3 linked regions of the Homo sapiens genome follow. The protein of the gene in region 1 purifies or fractionates together with the protein of each later gene. This does not show direct contact. Each region holds a gene or a part of one and is shown in the gene's direction. Other genes may lie near its edges.

Region 1 (7,024 bases):
GTGACATGTGTTCTAATGTTTTACCTTCTCCCTCAAACACATACTTATGTACTTAACTATTGCACTTGGACATTTCCCTGGGCTCTCAGTTTAACATATCTGAACAAATCATTATCACTTCCTCTTGAAGACTACAGTTTTTTGTATCTCAGGTAATAGACCCCTGGCACCCTTTGTCTGCCATGCTGGAAACTGCCTCTGTTTTCCATTATGTCAAGTCAGTTCTTTGGTGCCACTGACTTTTCCTCTTAAATGTTCCTTAAATTTATTCTTTTCTTCTTCATTCCTACCATTGCTGCTCTTGTTTTAGGTTTTTATCATATTTCATTTTTTAATAATCTCAAACTGATTTTCTTTCCTCTGAGCTAAACTCCTACTTAAATTTATCATACATATGTTTATTTAAAATGCACTTCTGACCGTCTCACTTTTCTACTTAAAATACATCAGTGGTTTTCCATCATGTGTAGGATAAATTCCTTTCTCTTTGGCATGGCATACAAGGCTTTCATATCACATATTAGGCATTTCATTAATTATTGTTGTATTGAACTCAAACATTCAGTGTGGATAGAGTCCCCAAGTAGGTTGCACTGCCACTCATATATCACTTAATGGTGGAGATTCCTTCTGAGAAATGTGTCATTAGACAGTTTCGTCACTGCGCAAACGTCATAGAGTGTACTTACACAAACCTAAATGGTATAGCCTACTATACACCTAGGATATATGGTATAGCCTATAGCTCCTACTCAACAAATCTGAGCAACATCACTGTACTGAATACTATAGGCAGTTGTAACACAATGGTAAGTATCTGCATTTCTAAACATAGAAAAGGTACAGTAAGAAAACTATAAAAGAGAAAAAATGGTACACTTGTATAAGGCACTTGCCGTGGATGGAGGTTACAGAACTGGAAGTTGCTCTTGGGTGAGTTGGTTAGTGGGTGGTGAGTGAATGTGAAGGCCTAGAATGTTATCGTACACTACTGTAGGCTTTATAAAACTGTACTCTTAGGCTACGCTGTTTGTTTAAATAATTTTTTCTTCAGTAATAAATTAGCTTACTATAACTTTTTTACTTTATAACCTTTTAATTTTTTGAAACTTTTTGACTCTCTTATAATATTTAGCTTAAAACACACACATTCTACAGCAGTACAGAAGTATTTTTTTATATCCTTTAAGATTTTTTTCTGTTTTTAAAATTTTTAATTTTTTTTTAACCTTTAAAACTTCTGTTAAAAACTAAGACAAAGACACAAACACACACATTAGCATGGGCCTATACAGGGTGAAAATCATCCATATCACGGTCTTCTCCTCCTACATGTTGTCCCACTGGAAAGTCTTCAGGGGCAATAACATGGAGCTGTCATCTAGGAAAACTGCACCTTCTTCTGGAATACCTCCTGAAGGACTTGCCTGAGGCTGTTTTACAGTTAATTTTTTTTTTAATAAGTAGAAGGAGTATACTCTGATATAATAGTAAGATACATAGTATAGTAAATACATAAACCAATTACATAGTCATTTATCATTATCAAGTATTACGTACTATACATAATTGAATGTGCTATAGTTTTATACACTGGCAGTGCAGTAGGTTTTTTTTTATACCAGCATTATCTCAAACACATGAATAATGTGTTGCACTGTGATGCTGTGATAGCTATAGTGTCAGTAGCTGACAGGAATTTTTCAGCTCCCTTGTAATCTCAGGGAACCACTGTCATATATGTAGTCTGTTGCCAACCAAACATTTGTTATGTGGCTCATGACTGTATATCCCTGCCAGCACGAGAGGTTCTACCTTAACAGGTAGCTTATGAAGATGCCAAGTGGAAGGATGATTTTCCTGCTCCTTTTGAGAAAAAAAAAAGTTTAAAAACATTCCTTTGGAGCATCATCTTTTGAAGCAAAAGCCATACTGTAGTAATCTTTTAGCTCTTCATATTTCACAAGGAGGTCGGGGAGAACAAATATGTACTTTCAAGAAGACTTTTAAAAAATGTCTCTATCAATTATCCCTTTACTTAAAATTTCTTATATTACTCATCCTATAATTTATTAATATTAAACATTTACTATTTTTTAAAAAATTAAATGTTTATAGAATATGTGCCATGTCTGAGGCAGGAGAATCTCTTGAACCTGGGGGGCGGATATTGCAGTGAGCCGAGATCACGCCATAGCACTCCAGCCTGAGCAACAAGAGCGAAATTCCGTCTTGGGGGATTTAAAAAAAAAAAGAATATGTGCCATGTAAGTTGGTATGCTTAGTGCCCTGGAAAATGAACAAGACAAGATTTCCTGTCTTTAAAGAGATCACAGCAAAGTGGATGGTGCAGAAAGATAAACATTGCAGTAGAGTACGATAAAGGCCACAATAGAGTTATGCCATTCTATTGTGGGAACACTAGAGGCAGGCTATCTTCGAGTTAACTGGAAGATCAAGTCTCAAATCTAGGGAACATGTCCCTAGCTTGTTCAGGCTGCTTTATGGTTGGGCCCCATTTGTCTTCCAGTCTACCCTGTAGTCCAGTCATACTGAACGCCTCACTTTCTCCTGAATGTGGTGTGACACTTCATGACTTTTGTCTGTCTCAGGTGCTTATTTCTCTTTATTTTGCTTAGCATGTTGTTTCTGCTCTTCTTTTAAATCCCAGCTCAATTAGTGCTTCCTGTCCTGCCTAACCCAGAAAGTTAGTTGTTCCCTTTCATGTGCCCACAGTACTCTGCTCATATCCTAATATAAGGTTTATCGCAGTGCATTATCTATTTACATCTCTCTCTCTCTCTTTCTCTCTCTCCCCCTTGATACTCACAGCTCTTCAAAGACAAAGATGGTGACTTATGTGTCCTTGTACTATGATACTTAGCTGGCATATTAGTTAAAGCAAAAATACCAAATATCATGAGTCTTAATTAACTTTACTATTATATGTTATCATATACACTCTTGGTTTATACGCTAGTACACTTTTTCATTTTCTTAATACTTATACCTGCTAGGGATCCTTCACATTTGTTTAATACAGTCCATTTAAATCACAGGTCCTATAGCACCTTCTGTATGCTAGGTATCGTGTTAGGTACTAGGAATGTAAAAATGAGTAAGGTTCATCCTTGCTGACAAGGGGCTCACAATGGAGGAGAAAAGACAGATAAACAGATACCTGCCACAATTTCTACTCAGTACAAAGTGTGATAGATGCTATGATACTAGGAAGCCCAGGGTGCTTTGGGTTAGCATATGCATGACGGTCATACATAATAGTATAACTTGCCTAGTTGCTTGGAGTCAGGGAAAGCATCCTAGAGGAACTGCACTTTGAGTTGAATCTTGAGAAAGGAAAGAAGCAGAAAGGGAGCAGCTTGGAAGGATGTGAGAGACCAGGATGCTCTGGGGAAACTGCAGCTTGTTTATTCTGACAGGACTAAGAATAGGGCTTGAAACAGAAAGCAGGGAGAGTCTAGACTGGATCTGTTAGACAGGGATTACATTGTATCTGATCGGATCTATCATACTGAAGAGTTTATACTGTTAAACTGAAGATAGTGGAGAGCCACTGAATAATTTTCAACAAGCTTCAATCAAATTTATGTTTGTAATGTTTTGTAGCTTCTGTGCTTCCTTCCCTCCTCCTTTTTCATATATTGTCATATTCTATCTGATTATTTCCCTTGTTTGTAAGTGATGCTTTGGAGTTTTCTTTGTCTGCTCAGTTGGAGTGTTCTTAAACACTCAATGTCAGGTATATAACCACTTACCTCTAACCTTCTATGGGAAAGGAGTATTAAATAGACATGCTATATCAGTTTTGCCAGTATTCTGTGTGTTACTTTACTGCTTAATTTTGAGTTGTCTTTCTCTCTTACCAATGCGCTATTCGAAATTTGATTTTGTTTTAATTACCAATGAACTCTTGTCTTGTGGAGACATAAAAGATACTACAATGAGTAACAACAGTCAAAATACCTGCCAAGCCAGAAGTTCACCATCCCTTTGGTGATTTTTTATTTAAAGAACAAGCCAGGTCTGGTAGTCCTGTAGTCCCAGCTACTCAGGAGGCTGAGGCAGGAGGATCACTTGAGCCCAGGAGTTTGAGCCCAGCCTTGGGCAACATAATGTCTGCCTGCCTGCCTGCCTGCCTGCCTGTCTCTGTGTCTCTGGCTGTCTCTCTCTCTCTCTCTCTGTCTCTCTCTCTCTGTCCCTCTCTGTCTCTCTCTCTCTCTTTAAAGAAGGACATGAAATTCCTGATAAGCCACAAAGGGTTAATTTCATTATTAACTCTTGAACAAAAATTAATTATTTAGGTAATATTATATATGAGACCTTAAGTTGGTTTTTTTTTTAGATGATTTTAGAATAGGTGACCTTTGCAAATTTAACTAGAAATTTGAGATTTGTTTGACATTATTAATGCCTCACAAAATTTATTCTCATTATTACTGAGTAAAATCAACTAGCTAGTTGTATAAAATCTAGCTGCAGCCATATACCTTGTTGGACTTAATTTTCTGCATCAGAATAATGTTTGTGTTAGATGATTTCTAAAGTCTTTTTCTGTTTACAGTTTTTGTATCCTTCATCTAATAAATTTTTCCAAATTATTTTTCATGTAGTGCACACATGGTCTTCTGAAGAAGCCATGGGTAGCTGTTGTAGCTGTCCAGATAAAGACACTGTCCCAGATAACCATCGGAACAAGTTTAAGGTCAGTAAAACTGGTTGAGTTATATATCTTACTGCCTAGTTGGGTGTTCTTCTTTTATTTCACTTAACATATCTTATTTCTGGCTTTTATCACCAAACCTTTCTATTTCCCTTTCTTTCCACCCTGTCTTTCTTGATTTAATAAATGATGACAACATTTTCTTACAGTATGGAATTTTTTTTAGTTTTCCTTCGGTCCTCTGTATCTAATTAGCCATACCGTTCTGGTAATACTGTTTTTAAAATGCCATTTTACGGGGTGCCTTTTCAATCTCATCACTATCTGTCTTTCAGTTATTATTTTCATGTGTGCCTGTGTGATTTCTTAACTGGACTCTACCTCAAGTCACCCTCTGATTCATCCTGTAGTCACCATCAAATTAATCTTCTTCTCTCATCATTCACTAACCTCTTTGCTAAAATTGTGTGGTGTTATTTTACCTGTAGGCTAAATGCTGCTATAGCTGTTTTGTGTCTGATAATTTGACCTCGATCTGTTACAAAGAATAGCCTTGATCACACAAACCTAGGTGTAAGTCTGTCACTTTATAAGCTTTGTGACCTTGGGCAGGTTACGTTATTACTGAGTCTTAATTCCATTTTTGTACAGTGTAGTCTAGGATTGTTATGAGGGTTAAATACATGTAAAGCTCTTTTCCTACTCCCAGGGGAATAGTAACTTCTCCCTAAATGTTACCTACTGCTCTTAGTCTTTGGATGTTTTCTGAAGCTCAGCAGTACAAAGCCTTTCCTCATATGAACTCTGTGCCAATCTATTTTGGTGTCTTTGAAAGGTACTTTTTTTGTTCTGCTTTAACATTGTGTCTTTATGATGTCCCTTTATCTCCTGACCCACTAGATTTCCCCTCTGATTTTATTTTCTGCGTAAATTTATTTATACTAGCGGTCCAGCTAAAGGCCCTCCTCCTCTTAAATGAAGGTGTCTCAACAACCTTAGACCACACTTCCTGCCTTCTGCAGCCTCTGTTGCATTCCTTTGTCAATTAATCATACACTTTTGTGGTATTGACTTTGTGTTTCTACATTTTGTTTCCCCAGTGGGAATGTAAATTTCTTACAGATCTGAACTGGGTGTTACACGGCTACGTAGTCCATGCCTGATACACACATTGGTTGATGAATGAACTAACAAATTACAAATAACTAATTAGCAACAATGCATTTTCCTGACGAATTGGTGACATATTTGCATGACTGTCACCTTCTTTTTTTAGGTCATTAATGTGGATGATGATGGGAATGAGTTAGGTTCTGGCATAATGGAACTTACAGACACAGAACTGATTTTATACACCCGCAAACGTGACTCAGTAAAATGGCACTACCTCTGCCTGCGACGCTATGGCTATGACTCGAATCTCTTTTCTTTTGAAAGTGGTCGAAGGTGTCAAACTGGACAAGGTAGAACCTTTGTTTTTTTTCCCAAATATTGTATTTGAAATTGTTTTTTCAGCTATTCTGTATACAAAGATTAAATTAATATTTTTCTTCTGAAAAAAATCCCAAAATAAACAGATTGTTAAGGAAAGATATAGTATACTGTGTATTAATTTATCAACTGTTTATTAAGCACATTGTCTATGTGAGAAATTTTGGCTCATGTCAACTTTAAGATTTTTCAGTAAATGATTGGGTCAGCTAAATTGACTAAGTGTCTTTATCATTGATTTTTTTACTACCTACTACTTGAATGGCCTTGACAAGTTACAGGACTTCCATTGAATGTTAAATTTCTTCTCTATAAAAGGGAAATGGTAATACCTATCTTTTAATTATTGTAATAATTAAACAAGATAACAATTGGAAAACACCTAGGGACTTTCCAAGGGGCCTGTTACATGGCAAATGATCACCTTGGAATAGTGAGTTGGGCTCCCCCTGCTGTTAAGAAACAGACTAGCGTAAGTGCGCAGGTCTTGATTTCATTAGCTTTATTTTGGGCCATCTCCCTTAGATGAATGAAAATTATTCTGTGAACTTTTGGCGGGGGTTTGTTTTGAAACAGAGAATAATCATTAATTTATCAGATATTTATTTAAAAGGGATTTCTGACTCGGTGCGTAGAATGCTTACTTTACAATTCTGCTGTTTGTCAAGTGTTCCTATAGTTTTTTTTAAAGGTATGTTAACTATTTTTCCCTTTTGGTTTATATTTGTAGGAATCTTTGCCTTTAAGTGTGCCCGTGCAGAAGAATTATTTAACATGTTGCAAGAGATTATGCAAAATAATAGTATAAATGTGGTGGAAGAGCCAGTTGTAGAAAGAAATAATCATCAGACA
Region 2 (7,024 bases), on another chromosome or scaffold:
GCCTTGTATCTTACTGACTTGAATTTCTCTGGGCTTTGCTTTTGAGTGATTAAATTCTCAATCAACTCAGTGAACTAATTCATCGTTCAGTGGTGCTTTCATTAAATTTGCCTTAAGGTATACAGCAAGCTTGTCTAACCCCCGGCCCAACACAAATTTGTAAACTTTCTTAAAACATTATGAGATTTTTTTGCAATTTTTAAAAAGCTCATCAGCTCTCGTTAGTGTTAGTATATTTTATGTGTGGCCCAAGATAATAATTCTTCCAGTTTGGCCCAGGGAAGCCAAAATATTGGATACCCCTGGTATATAGCTTTCAATGTTAGATTATCTGCTGCTTTAAAGACTAAACTTGATAATGTTTAATGGTAACATTTTATTTGTCTCCCAGAATTCTGCCATGTGAGAGGCAAATAGTTTCAAATGATAGGGATGGAAGGTACTTTGAGAGATTACCTGGATTCCAGCCTTCAGCCTACTAGTAATATCTGTTAAGTAAAAACCTAGTATCTTTCTTTATGAACCCTGGCCATTGGCTTTCTTTAATCTAGCTGGCCATATTGAAGAACAATATTATGAATAAAAGATATTTGATTTTTGTATTAATATGTACACTTTTAAAGTCTCTTATCCTTTGGAAAATATCTTTCGTTACCCTTTTTATGTTGAGAATTGTTAGGAATAAATTTTTCTGTTTTTTTTTTTTTTTTTTTTGAGACGGAGTCTCACTCTGTTGCCCAGGCTGGAGTGCAGTGGCACGATCACGGCTCACTGCAACCTCTGACCCCTGAGTTCAGGCGATTCTTCTGCCTCAGCCTCCCGAGTAGCTGGGACTACAGGCGTGTGCCACCACACCCAGCTAATTTTTGTATTTTTAGTAGAGACGGGGTTTTACCATATTGGCCAGGCTGGTCTCAAACTCCTGACCTCGTGATCCCCCCGCCTCAGCCTCCCAAAGTGCTGGGATTACAGGCATGAACCACCGTGCCCAGCCTAAATTTTTCTTTTACTTAACACAGTTAAGACTGAAAATTTTCCTAAAAATGTAGATTATGCCTCTAGTAGAAAGTATGGTGAGTTTTTAATAATGAATATAAGAAATCTGGATAATAAAAGCTAAGTATTAAACATTACAATATGGTATTCATTACTTCTAGAATATTTGACCATTAAAGTATTTTAAGTAAATTTTAATAAAAATGGTTTAGAATATAAGTAAGAAATCTGTTTACTTTTCACAGGTCATCAGTGCATGTGGTATGTGCATGCGCATGCATGTAACTGATTTTTATCAATTGAAGCAGAAAGGAATGTGTTGTTGACCTTTAAGGAATACCTGTGAAAAACACAAAATCCTTAAAGTACTAATGTACTAATGAATACTTAAGCTAATTGAAAAGTAAACTTCTAGCCAGGCATGGTGGCTTACGCCTGTAATCCCAGCACTTTGGGAGGCCGAAGCAGGCAGATCACTTGAGGTCAGGAGTTTGAGACCAGCCTGGCTAACATGGTGAAAACTTGTCTCTACTAGAAGTAAAAAAAAAAAAAAAAATCAGTCAGGTGTGGTGACAGACACCCGTAATCGCAGCTACTCGGGAGGCTGAGGCAGGAGAACTACTTGAAGCTGGGAGGCAGAGGTTGCAGTGAGCTGAGATTGCACCGCTGCACCCTAGCCTGGGGTACAGAGCAAGACTCCATCTAAAAAAAAAAAAGAAAAATAAACTTCTTTATAAATCACTTTGAATATTTCATGATTGTGTATCTCAAGTCTTTTCATTCATGGTAGAGAGTAGGTATTCCTAAATTGTTGGATGAAAACTCTATTGATAAAATGTTATTTTATTTTATTTTAATAGACGGTATCTCAAACTCGTAGGCTTAAGCGATCCTCCCACCTGGGCCTCCCAAAGTGCTGAGATTATAGGCATAGGCCATTGCAGCCAGCCAATATGTGATTTCTTAACTTTTCCTTTTGGTAACCAGGAACAGGTTTAAGATGTATGAGTGAATTATTGTGACTCATACATCTGTTAAGTGCTTGCTTGAATCATAGCCACCTTACTGTATTGACAATTAGTTACTGATGACTTAGTTCTTGTTAAGTAGAGACGTTCTGTCTGACACAGATATTTGCCAGTAATAGAAAATATGCTTGAGTTTCAGTTTCATAAATATGTATATTATAGCTTCACTCAAAATCTTAATGTGGATATGGACAAAGTTCTTTATTATACTAATGTTAATTCTGTAGTATAATTACAAAGAAAACCATTTACACTTACATTGTGTGTTACCATTTACAAAGTGCTTTGGTTTTTAATAACAACCCCTAAAAGTAGGCAGGGTAGGCTTTTTATAAGCCTTATTTGGCAAATGGGAAAAGTAAGACTCAGAGATCAAGTGACTTGCCCCAAGGTCACACAGAAGTAGAGTCAAAATTTGATCCTAGATTTTGTAATTGAGATTCCTTCTACTATATTGCATCGTTCTCTGTATATTTATCTTCCTTATCATCTCAATATTATATAACAATAATATAGGGGTCAGAAACCTAAGACCAAATTCCACACTTAAAAAAAAAAAAACCTCGTCTACATGCTTAGTGGTATGCTAACTCTATGATAATTCAGTAGATCGATTATGCTCCCCATTTCTTTTCAGTGGTATGCACCTTGAAAAACTACATATTACTGCCTGTCACAAGATATAACCCATCTTAACACTGCTAATCTTGGTCTTTTAATGTAGAAAACTTGGTTGTGTATTAATAGTAACACACAAGAAAAACACTTTTAAAAAGAATATTTGATGACACATTTAAAATTTTTATTGTGACAGTTGAATAAATGTTATTTTTATCCTTAAATGAGTTTATTATTATTTTATCCAAAAATGTACTACTGGTTCAGATTTGTCATTTTGGCTTTACAGCAGTTAGAAGAAAAAAGTGAAGATCAAGAAGACAAGGAATGTTTAAAACAAGCAATAACAGCTTTGCTTAATGTTCAGAGTGGTATGGAAAAAATATGTTCTAAAAGTCTTGCAAAACGAAGACTGAGGTGAATATTTTTACTTTTTAAAATATCCTTTTTTCCCTGAATATTGTGGTGTAAATTCAGGGATCCCAGTTCCCTCCTCAAGTAAACAATGAAGAAAATAGTTTTAGTGACAAGCCTGGTCTTTTAGAGGAAGTGACATCAAAGCCAAGAGAATTGTTATTGTTTGAAAAACCTTTCATATTTGTGCATTTTCCTTGCATACTCCCAGACAAGACCTCCTGAGAGTCAACTGGTAAGCTGAAGGAGAGACAGAGTAAAATGTATCGGGTAGATTTATGTTGGCATCGTTATTCTGTCAAAGTAAAATTATTAGTGTCCTTTATTTTAGGGATTATATAACTTGAGGCATTAATTCAGATAACATTGCTTCCACTTTCCTGATTATAATATGTGCTACATGTTTTTAGCTTTGGGTCTTGTCCATTTAAACTCTTCTAAATAATTTATTTTAATCTTTCAGATTACTTTTTTTTACTGTATTGGGCTACTTTTTATTAGTTGTCATTCTAAATATTTAGTAGCCAAGATAGAAATAATCATTTTGTAGTTACATTTAAGGAGAATTTTGTCAGCAATCATTGTGCTTTTTAGAACACTGAAAAAAATTTCTAGGTTGCTTTAATTTTCAAAATTGTGTAATTTTGTAATTCTAATCTATTTGGGGAATTAGTGAATACCTTCTCAGTGAGACTTGTAAAAATCTACTTTTACACTTTCCCTTACTTACATGAGCTCTAGGTTTTCTGTCATCTATGTACTAATAATGTCTTTTTCTTTATTCCAGTGAATCTGCATGTCGGTTTTATAGTCAGCAAATGAAGGGGAAACAACTAGCAATCAAGAAGATGAACGAGATTCAGAAGAATATTGATGGTTGGGAGGGAAAAGACATTGGACAGTGTTGTAATGAATTTATAATGGAAGGAACTCTTACACGTGTAGGAGCCAAACATGAGAGACACATATTTCTCTTTGATGGCTTAATGATTTGCTGTAAATCAAATCATGGGCAGCCAAGACTTCCTGGTGCTAGCAATGCAGAATATCGTCTTAAAGAAAAGTTTTTTATGCGAAAGGTACAAATTAATGATAAAGATGACACCAATGAATACAAGCATGCTTTTGAAATAATTTTAAAAGATGAAAATAGTGTTATATTTTCTGCCAAGTCAGCTGAAGAGAAAAACAATTGGATGGCAGCATTGATATCTTTACAGTACCGGAGTACACTGGAAAGGATGCTTGATGTAACAATGCTACAGGAAGAGAAAGAGGAGCAGATGAGGCTGCCTAGTGCTGATGTTTATAGATTTGCAGAGCCTGACTCTGAAGAGAATATTATATTTGAAGAGAACATGCAGCCCAAGGCTGGAATTCCAATTATCAAAGCAGGAACTGTTATTAAACTTATAGAGAGGCTTACGTACCATATGTACGCAGGTAAGAATTATGCAGTTGCCTGTCACTTTTGTTTTCCTGCTTCAAACTGATTTTCTTTCCTGCATGGGTTTATTGTGCCTAAAATAGAAAAGAAACTAACAACCAAAGACCTCTTTTCTTTGACTAAAAATACCCCACTTTATATTTCTTTGGAATGTTTTACTTTTTCTACTACACTTAAATACTTTTTTTTAACCTTACCATCAGTTATAGATGAGAAAATGAGGTCACTTGGCTAAATTTATCCAGTTAGAAAGTGACAGAAACAAGACTAAAGTTAGTAGTAAATCATCATTATTGGGATCTAAAAAGTTTTTTACTCCTTTATCTTTTTTTTCTTTCTTCTTTTTCCATTTCTGAGATTATAAATAAAAATTTTAATATAACAAAATTGTGCTGGTAGTACAAATATACACGGCATTGCTTTCTCTCAGTTTCCACTCCTAAACCTGATTATTTAATAATAAATGTTGCAATCCTGGAAGCCAAGGATTCCAGTTTTATTATAATTTTTCACCTAGAAATGTCTATAGTCAGTGTATTTATTTTACTGACCCAAAAATTTAAAAAATCATAGGAAATGTAAATAGGCTGCCTAGATTTTACATGAAAAACAAATAGGTTATTGTCATTTTTTTCCATATAAAGCTGTTTTTTGAGAGGTACAATTTTTCGGTAGTATGACCTGCCGATTTAGTTGTGCTTCACCAACCTTTTCTATGTTCTTTATGATCTAGACTACAACTATAAAAATGTTTTTTATTCAGTTACCCAAAATTTGTGATTGCAAAATACTTCTTTTCTGCTTAAGAGATTTTTAAGGCTATAAAAGTTCAAATTGCCCTTCTTGCCACATTTTCCTGGTTTTTAAGTCCCCTTAGAGGACTCATAGAATTTTTATAACATGAGCATTCTAAACTTTATCATTTCATCCTAAGTACTTTTGTTTGGGGTTCCTAGACTCATTTGGAGTAAAATTAATCTTTAGATTTTTCTCTGTGTTTGTAAGAAAGAAGTTTTAATTTTTTTTTTTTTTTTTTTTTTCCTGTAGAGCATTGTAAGAAGACTTACTACTAGTGTTTACTGTCACAAGTCAGTGATACTTGGGCAGGAAAACATTTTCAAATTACAAAATTTTTAATTGTTTCTGTAAGACTTGATTGAGTGATAGAAGTTTTCTCTAAATTGCTATATTTCACAAAGTTAATTTATGATTATTAATAAGCAGCTGAAGAATGGTTACAACTATTGTCTGGGGAACTGTCCCTTTTATTTATTTTTTTAAATGAGGACACTTTAAAGCAAAATTAACTGGAACAAGCTGATACTTGTTTTGTAGTCCTGAAAGTCTTCTTTCCTTAATGTGTACAATGTTAGGTAAAGTCCGTGGACATGGTACTTTTGTAATGATGTTTTATTAGTTATTTCTGTCTGATACTTCTTTTCTATATCAATTTTTAGCTTTGGTATAGAGTAATATTTTGAGTGCTTTTACTTATAATGAATATAAAACACTTAAATTTCAAGATTTATAGAACTTTGCCAAAGTTAAGTGTATTGAAAATTTAAGTTGATGAGATTATTTTACTTAAAAAAAATGTTTTTAAAAAATTCCTTCCAATAATTTTTTGAGAAATAAAAGGCCAGTGTTGTGGCTAAGTTTTTTGATATTTTTCTTTTCTGTCTTCTTTTGAAGCTTAACTGAATATTTTAATTTATGTCATAAATATATTACTGGTGAAACTGGAGTCTACAAGCAGCTTTCGTGAGTTGTGGTTTACAGTACACACACATTAGTGTTAACTGTTAGCTTATTTGGGCTATTCTGTAAGGTCTGTTACTGAAGTTATTACTGGCAACATAGAATGGTTTTTAATAGACCATCTGTGAACTTGTAAAACTGAAATGGACTTTTAAGGCCTCACTACAATGGTAACAGATCAAGTTACCATTTGTTTTTAAGAACTACTGGTCTGCTCTTCTCCTCTCATCTTTCTTCAGCCTCCCCAAAGAGAAAAGGGATTTGTGATTTGGTTAGTAGGTATGTTTATTGGAGAACATGCAGTACAGGTTGTGGCTTACACTGAAACAAAGCTAACATTTAACTTACACATTTTTATTTTATTATATAGAATTGTAATAAAAGACATTGGATATAATACATGAGAAAATTTAATGAATACTATAAGACACGACTTACAGACATCTTTTAGATTATTATAGTTTGGTTAGACATTGTCATAAAAACAGAAGAGAAACTGGTTTAACCTTACTTTATTCAGACTTCACTGTGGTGTCAGCCAACTTTATCCCTCAAATATTTTAACAGTAATGTACAAAATGGAGCTATAGATCTCTAATGCTAGAAGAGATGCCCAAGCCTTCACTTTGTAGACAAATCCCAAGGCCCCTGAAGATTATATGATTTCCCAGAAGTTCTATTACGAGTTAATTCCAGAACAAGTCAAGAATTAGGTTTCTTGACTCTAAATAGAGTATATTTTCTACCATGTTACATTGACTCA
Region 3 (8,014 bases), on another chromosome or scaffold:
CTGTGTATGGATAGTAATCCTCAAGAGACTTGCTCGTGTGTCAAAGTTTCTCCAAACCATGAGGACCACCTGAATAAAAATGTCTAAGCGAGGCTGGGCATGGTGGCTCACGCCTGTAATCTCAGTGCTTTGGGAGGCTAAGGAGGGAGGATCACTTGAGGCCAGGAGTTTGAGACCAGCCTGGGCAACATAATGAGACCCCTGTCTCTACAAAAAATACAAAAATTAGCTGGGCATGGTGGTGCATGCCTATAGTCCCAGCTACTCAGGAGGCTGAGGTGGGAAGCTTGCGTGAGCTCAGGAGTTGGAGGCTGCAGTGAGCTGTGATTGTGCCACTGCCCTCCAGTCTGGGTGACAGAGAAAGATCCTGTCTCAAAAAACCGAACCAAACCAAAACAAAAACAATTAAGTGCCGGGTGCGGTGGCTCACGCCTGTAATCCCAGCACTTTGGGAGGCAGGTGGATCACTTGGTGAAATGCCATCTCTACTAAAAATATAAAAAAATTAGCCGGGCGTGGTGGCAGGCGCTTGTAGTCCCAGCTACTTGGGAGGCTGAGGCAGGAGAATCACTTGAACCCAGGAGGCAGAGGTTGTAGTGAGCCAAGATCACGCTACTGCACTCTGGATGACAGAGCAAGACTCCATCTCAAAAAAAACCAAAAAACAAAAACAAAAACAAAGGCAAAAACAAAACAACCAAAAAAACCCGAACAAATAAAAAAACAAAAACAAAGAAAAACTAAGTGCTTGTCACGTCCTAACTCATTTCATCCTCTTAGTGATCCTATTAAAGATCTAGGAGAGGCCGGGTGCGGTGGCTCACGCCTGTAATCCCAGCACTTTGGGAGGCCGAGGCGGGTGGATCACGAGGTCAGCAGTTCAAGACCAGCTTGGCCAAGATGGTGAAACCCCATCTCTACTAAAAATACAAAAAATTAGCTGGGCGCGGTGGCAGGCACCTGTAGTCCCAGCTACTCAGGAGGCTGAGGAAGGAGAATCATTTGAACCCTGAGGGTGGAGGCTGCAGTGAGCCGAGATCGTGCCACTGCATTCCAGCCTGGGTGACAGAGTGAAACTCTGTCTCAAAAAAAAAAAAGAAAAAAAAAATCCAGGAAATAAGAACCATTATTTTCCCCATTTTACAGCTGAGAAAATGGAAAACTCAGATAACTCAAGCAACTGGCCTGAGGTAACACAGCGTTTGTTTGTTTGTTTGTTTGTTTTTTTTGAGACGGAGTTTCTCTCTTGTTACCCAGGCGGGAGTGCAATGGCACGATCTCGGCTCACCGCAACCTCTGCCTCCTAGGTTCAAGTGATTCTCCCGGCTCAGCCTCCTGAGTAGCTGAGATTACAGGCATGTACGACCATGCCCAGCTAATTTTGTATTTTTAGTAGAGACGGGGTTTCTCCATGTTGGTCAGGCTGGTCTTGAACTCCTGACCTCAGGTGATCCACTTGCCTCGGCCTCCCAAAGTGCTGGGATTACAGGTGTGAGCCACCATGCCAGGCCTTTTTTTGTTGTTTTTTGAGAGGGAATCTTGCTCTGTCACCCAGGCTGGAGTGCAGTGGGGCGATCTCAGCTCACTGCAACCTCAGCCTCCTGGGTTCAAGCGATTCACATGCCTTAGCTTCCAGAGTATGTGGGATTACAGGCATGCGCCACCACAAGCGGCCAATTTTTGTGTTTTTAGTGGAGACGGCATTTCACCATGTTGGTCAGCCTGGTCTCGACTTCCTGCCTTCAAGTGATCCGCCTGCCTCGGCCTCCCAAAGTGCTGGAATTACAGGCGTGAGCCACTGCGCCCGGCCACAGGTCACAAAGCTATTGAGTAAAGAAAGCTGCATCCAGCCTCTCACCTTAAGAAAGCCATTCCCCTTTGCCTCAAAGTGAGGCTATACTTCCAGAAGGACTTTGTCTCCGGGGAAGCCTTGGCTTTGGAATTCAGGCCCAGTTCTAAGTTTAAAATCATTGATGCTGTTCAGTAGTGGGATCAATGATTTTGCTTCACTTAAATGCCACAAGCTCCCTGAAGATGGGCTGGAGCTGTCACAGCATCCAGCCCCTCCCCTTACCCAGAAGTAAATACTCTTATCATAGTCCTCCGACTATTCTATATCCTTCCATTTGAGTGCTTCTTTTATGCCGAGGGCACTATTGAGATGTAGCTTAGAGAATGAAATTCCTGGTGTTGCAGGGAGCTCAGATCCACCCGGGAAGGTTCATGAGCACTTCATGTCAGCAGCCTTTATTTCATCTAACGTTTCCATAGAGTGAAGGAACAGCCACCCATTACAAAACAAATTATTAAAAGAAAAATTCCAAATCTTCAAAGGAGAGAGGCCCATGGTAGTGAGCGCTCCCACCCCCTTCTCCTTTCTCTTCCCATCACCAACGGGCTAGCAGCACAATTTGTTTCTTGAAACTTTTGGGGGCATCGGAGTTCTGGTGTCCTCATTTTTCTTCCTTCCCATTGATGTATCATTACTAGAGTGAAAAAAGAAGGGCGTCTCGAGGGCTTTTGAAAAAAAAAAAGGGTGACTACTCAAGACATTTTGTAAAGGGGGGAAAATTGCGAAGAAAAGAGACCTCAGTAGGGGGTGGAGGAACTGTGAATGTGTCCTTGTCTGGCGGTTCTTTCAGCTGAAACCTGGTGCTGGCGTTCGCAGTTCAGTTCAAACTGTCACCTTTAGTTCTTACTGGCTTTTCTGCCCTTGCCCCAGAACCTCAACAGATTGGGGCTTATTTACCTATTCACACTCCGCCGTGGAAGCTCATTAATAGGCTTTATTAGCAACACCATTCATGGGAGGCCATTGACGAAAGGGGTTCCAGCCACTTGAAGAGGGAAGAGAAAAGAAAAAACTGTAAAGAGATTATTTTCTCATTCAGAAGCCTCAGTGGTGTGAAGGTTTTCCTGGATGGTCTGAGGTCACTTGAAGACTAAATATGGGGACATAATTGATTTTTTAAAAATAATTCTAAACATACTTCCCCCCCCTCCTCAAAACTGAAGAGTTTCCTGTTGTGGTCTTGTGGGTTTCAGTCCCTTATATATGAGCCCTCTTTAGGGAATAAGGAGCTTTTGATAGATTGGTGTCTTTTCATTTCTATAAAAAATACATTCTGCAAACTGTGCCTGGACATGAAAGTAGGTGTTCTTATTTGTCATTTTCAGCGGAAAGCTTCCTTTCCATTCAACATGCATAAAGCTATTGATGAATGGGGGATAGGGACAGCGGCTTCCTGCACCATTAATTTATGTGAGAATGTGTTAACAGCATTTTCAATGGCTGATGGATGCGGTGTAGGATGGGAAAGGAACTGTCCTGAGACACTCGAGTTTCCCATTGGTGGGGAATATAAAGATGTAAGTGGCAACCTGCGAGCAGGCAGACACGTTCAGCTGCATCCCTTTTCTGAGAACTTGAAAACATACTGCTATCAGAACAACCCGTGTGGGAGTGAATGGCTAAGTGTCAACCTGGGCTGAGGTGTCCGTTAATGTATAGGCTCTGGGGCTAATCCAGGTTAGAGGACTTGACCAAAAACATACCCTCCCACCAAGCATATAGAGGGATAATTTTGCTTAAGAACCAGTTTTTATTTTGTTGCTATCAAATTTCCAAAATACAATGTTATAGCCTTTTGCCTGAGGCAGTTAAATGGATTTCTTACTTGTGTGGCTTTTAAATAACTTGCATAAACGTTTTCTGTGCTATATTTGTGAATAAAAATGATTTTCTAATCATGTAGCACCTTGAAAAATATTTTTGTAAATGTTATGAAGGGTGCAATGTTAGTGACACAGGTGCAAATATGTTTCTAAATCCAGGAAAAGTCTGTTTTCCAAGTCAGGTTTGTTCTCAATGCTTCATCTATCTTCAGGCCTCAAAAGGATTCTAAAGCATTTCTGGGTTTAGTGACCTTTTCTAAAGAAAAATAATTAAGGTTTTAATCTATATGGTCTTGAACTTAAGCACGGCTGCTCAGGAGCTGGATGAATAAGGAGGGAGAAAAAGCATATTTAAAATAAATTATTCCGAAGACACGGCTTAGTGAAAAGGTAAATGGACATAGGAACTTTAACCAGTTACAGCTTGGTGTGCAGTTGAAGAATCAGATTTTGCATTTATGATTTTTAATCTAAGATTCAGAGGGAGGAATTACTTTGTTCAAGGTCTATTTATGGTAGAGTTGTCTTTAGACTCCTTTGAATTTCTTTTTATTAATCCAAACATATATTATTAAACACTTTTTTTTTTTGATGCAATTTTGGCTTTTTCTGAGAGAGCCACATTCAAAGTCAGGCTGTCCTAGTAGCCAGCTGTGTGGTCCTAGGCAAATTACTTAACCTCTCTGATCCTGTTTCCTTATCAGAAACTGGGAATAGTACTCTGCAGGGTGGTTGGGCAGATGAAATAGAATCACCTATGTAGTGTGACCCTCCCATAGTAGGGCCTCCATTAATATTCAGTTTTTTCCTCTCATTTCTATTGTTTAGAAGGACAGAAACATGCAATGTCCTGCGAACATTTCCAAGTGGCTTCCTCTCCTCCAAAAGCTTCAGCTGCCTGGCAACCCTCCCCGCAGTATCAAGCAGGCGCATTTTAAAGTCTCTTTAGCGGGAGGGCAGGGTTAGAGCCTTCGGTCATTTGTTTTCTAACTTGACATAAAACAACGTAACGCAGTCGCTCAGCGAGCCGTTGGCCAGCCTCGCTCGCCCGGGGAGGAGGGAGGAGGTGGCGCGGGGCGCGGGACCAGGCCTTATTCGGAGGCTGTCGCTGCATCCCTACGGCCGCATCGCGGCCGAGCCCTCGCCTCCCGGGCCGGTGTCTCCGGCTGCTCGGAGGCGTCGGGAGCCGCGCGGGACTCGGGGCGGCCCGGGCGCGCGGCGCTGATTGGCAGAGAGGGCGCCGCCGTCCAGGAAACGGCTCGGGTTTCAGTGGGGGCGTGACCCGCCGCGAGGAGGCGGGGGCGGCGGCGGCGGCGCGGGCGGCGGCTGGAGGAGAGCGCGGTGGAGAGCCGAGCGGGCGGGCGGCGGGTGCGGAGCGGGCGAGGGAGCGCGCGCGGCCGCCACAAAGCTCGGGCGCCGCGGGGCTGCATGCGGCGTACCTGGCCCGGCGCGGCGACTGCTCTCCGGGCTGGCGGGGGCCGGCCGCGAGCCCCGGGGGCCCCGAGGCCGCAGCTTGCCTGCGCGCTCTGAGCCTTCGCAACTCGCGAGCAAAGTTTGGTGGAGGCAACGCCAAGCCTGAGTCCTTTCTTCCTCTCGTTCCCCAAATCCGAGGGCAGCCCGCGGGCGTCATGCCCGCGCTCCTCCGCAGCCTGGGGTACGCGTGAAGCCCGGGAGGCTTGGCGCCGGCGAAGACCCAAGGACCACTCTTCTGCGTTTGGAGTTGCTCCCCGCAACCCCGGGCTCGTCGCTTTCTCCATCCCGACCCACGCGGGGCGCGGGGACAACACAGGTCGCGGAGGAGCGTTGCCATTCAAGGTAATCGCCGCGCAAGACGCCTCGGGGAGCTTCGCCAGCCGGGGACGTGGGCGCCACGGGAGCCCGGGACGCCGGGTGCACCGTCCTCCGGGCGGGGGGCGCGGAAGGACTAGCATTGTGGAGGACGCTCCGTGTCCTCCCTCTGTGGCTGCATAGGTGATGGGGGAGGTGGGTGCGTGCTGACGGCCGGCGTTCTGGAAGTTCTGCCTCTGCTACCCCCATCCAGATGCTGACATCTGCTTCTGGCGTTGACGCCCCCCTCCCTGTCAAACCCTGGCGGGCGCATTCCCGCTGACTGGGCGCGTTTCTCCGACCCCAGAGCAGACGGGCGGAAGGTTCGCCTGCCCGTGGCACAGCCCCGCAGGCCGGTTCCCGGGGTCATCTCCGAGGTGCCCCATCCGTGTGTCCTGGGAACTTCCGTACCATCCAGGCCCTGCGGAGACCCCTTTTTCGGGAGGGGGCCGCTGGGGTGGGGCCGGTGACATCCCGTAGGGGTGGCGATGGCCAGGGGTGGCACTGCTGGGGAGGCGACGGCTCCGGTGCCTGGGCGCCCCTCGCCCGCAGCCGCCGTCGGCGCTGGAGGGAGCGCAGTGCGCCTGGGGCTAGGGGGCGAACTGGACCGACTTTTTCTAGTTCGCCTGCCTGCTCTGCCGCAGCGGCTGGGAGATGTCGAAAGCGCAGGCGAGTTCTAACTTGCGCGCTCATTTTTTTCGGCCACGGGGCCGCGCTGGGGAAAAAAGCCGAGGGCCCTGCGTGGCGCTGGCTCCGACCCTCGCGGACCACGGACCTGGCGCAGGAGGCCCGCTCGGGGACCACCAGCCTCCGTCGCTCTCCTCGCACCCCGCTCCCTTGCAGACCGTTCTCCAGACCCTCCTTCCTTTCTCCCAATTCAATAAAACCTACCCTTAAAGGCAAACCTGCTTTCAAACTCAGGGCACCCATTATGTGTTTGGTGTGAAACGCTATCAACATTTAAAACTCCATTGTCTCCCTGGTCCCAAATCCCTGTAAATCTTCCACCGGGCTCGACTCATTTTCATCTGAAAAGCCTGTTTAGTTTGAATAGAAAAGCAATCAGGCGCCCCTCTCTCTTTCCCTGGAATGTCAATTAAAATGCAGATTTCTCTGAGCTCTTTAGCGCCCCGAGAAGGGGGAGAAAAACAGGATATTTCAGGCAAACAAATGAAAGAAGTGCTGCCCTGAAAGGGGGTGGTGGTGGGGAGCACCCCCAAGCTGCTCGCAAGTTCTGATTGGACGCAAGCATTAAACCGGGAGGGCTTTGTGGTCCTGGGTCAGTGTGTGTTTTTTGAGATTTCAATTTGTTGAGGAATTTCCCCCTAGCCTTGACCCCTTGACAGCTCCCGCTCCTACTCAGTGCTGGGGAGAAGTAGGGAGGCCTTAAGCGAAGAGATGGGTCTGCACTTTGGAGGAGCCGGACACTGTTGACTTTCCTGATGTGAAATCTACCCAGGAACAAAACACCAGGTGATCCCAGTGGCCGAGCCAGCAGTGGACAGATCACCCCTTAGGTGGAAGCCCAAAGCGGAGGGCACTGTATTGGTCTGCCTTCTTGGAGGGCGGGGGTTTTGGGAATGTCATGGTAAATTGAAGAGCCCAGCACAGGCCTGGCATGGGGACCGCTCCGCAGCCAAGCCCTTCCTGCTTGTCACTCTGCCTGTCTTTGGGGGCAGGCTTGTGCCGAGGTGAAAATGGACCGGGGGGCGGGCGGCCGAGAAGAGCCATCCATCAGAGGGAGGGTGACAACTCCTCCCGCGTGCAGGCTGAGAAGAGAGTTCCCTTTCAAGGGGAAAAATAAACACGCTGGGGCTTTCACTGGGGCTCAGACTCCAGGAAGGATTATGGTATTGAAGGCAGGAAGCCGGGATTGTGGCCGCCAGCGGCATGCTGGGCCTGTATTCCCAACACCGAGCCTGGGGACCTAATTATCCTGCCTAGGAGGTCGCACCATACTTTTGTCCACTGGTGTGAGGAACTGTGCAGACCTGTCGCCTTAGGTCTCCGCCTTCCAGAGTTTTGGGGAGGGGGCTGCCGTGGGGTTTGGACCTGGAAATGGCTGAAATGCAAATTTCTAGTGCCAGCTAGCGGGATGATGGAACGGCTTGAGATTCAGCGGAGCGCCCTGTCCACCTTTCTCTGCCTGGAGCCAAGGAGGCTCCTCTGGGCAGGGACAGGTGGGCGAGCAGGCCGGGGAAGGAGCCTGGGGTGAAACCTCTGCGAGGACTTAGGATTGTTCCTGAAGTCGTGTTAGAGGTAGAAAATTCCCCTGCATTCTGCAAATGCTTAGTAAATCAATGAGAATGTTTGTGTACTTTCCTCCCACATGTATGTAGAAATAGATCCGAAATTATCTTCTGAGGCTCTTGACTAAGAGGAAAGAAAAGTTAAGAGGAAAAATCTTTCAAGCTATCTGAAAGCACATGCACACACCGTGCACGCACACACCATGTACACACACACACCGTGCATACACACACACCATGCACGCACACACACCGTGTACACA

What was found.
Region 2: the proteins of FRS2 (region 1) and SOS1 purify together in Homo sapiens (affinity purification with western blotting; 5 studies listed by BioGRID). This does not show direct contact.
Region 3: the proteins of FRS2 (region 1) and FGFR2 purify together in Homo sapiens (affinity purification with western blotting; 2 studies listed by BioGRID). This does not show direct contact.

What each region holds. Positions count from the first base shown.
Region 1 is NC_000012.12:69,564,374-69,571,397, forward strand, and holds part of FRS2 (fibroblast growth factor receptor substrate 2), read left to right. Parts: exon of another isoform or gene 1-2,267; intron 2,268-4,631; 5' UTR 4,632-4,657; coding exon 4,658-4,723; intron 4,724-5,957; coding exon 5,958-6,144; intron 6,145-6,902; coding exon 6,903-7,024. UniProt on the Homo sapiens protein: Adapter protein that links activated FGR and NGF receptors to downstream signaling pathways.
Region 2 is NC_000002.12:39,020,045-39,027,068, reverse strand, and holds part of SOS1 (son of sevenless homolog 1), read left to right. Parts: intron 1-2,931; coding exon 2,932-3,059; intron 3,060-3,843; coding exon 3,844-4,499; intron 4,500-7,024.
Region 3 is NC_000010.11:121,595,438-121,603,451, reverse strand, and holds the start of FGFR2 (fibroblast growth factor receptor 2 isoform 1 precursor), read left to right. Parts: upstream 1-5,007; 5' UTR 5,008-5,490; intron 5,491-6,806; exon of another isoform or gene 6,807-6,975; intron 6,976-8,014. UniProt on the Homo sapiens protein: Tyrosine-protein kinase that acts as a cell-surface receptor for fibroblast growth factors and plays an essential role in the regulation of cell proliferation, differentiation, migration and apoptosis, and in the regulation of embryonic development.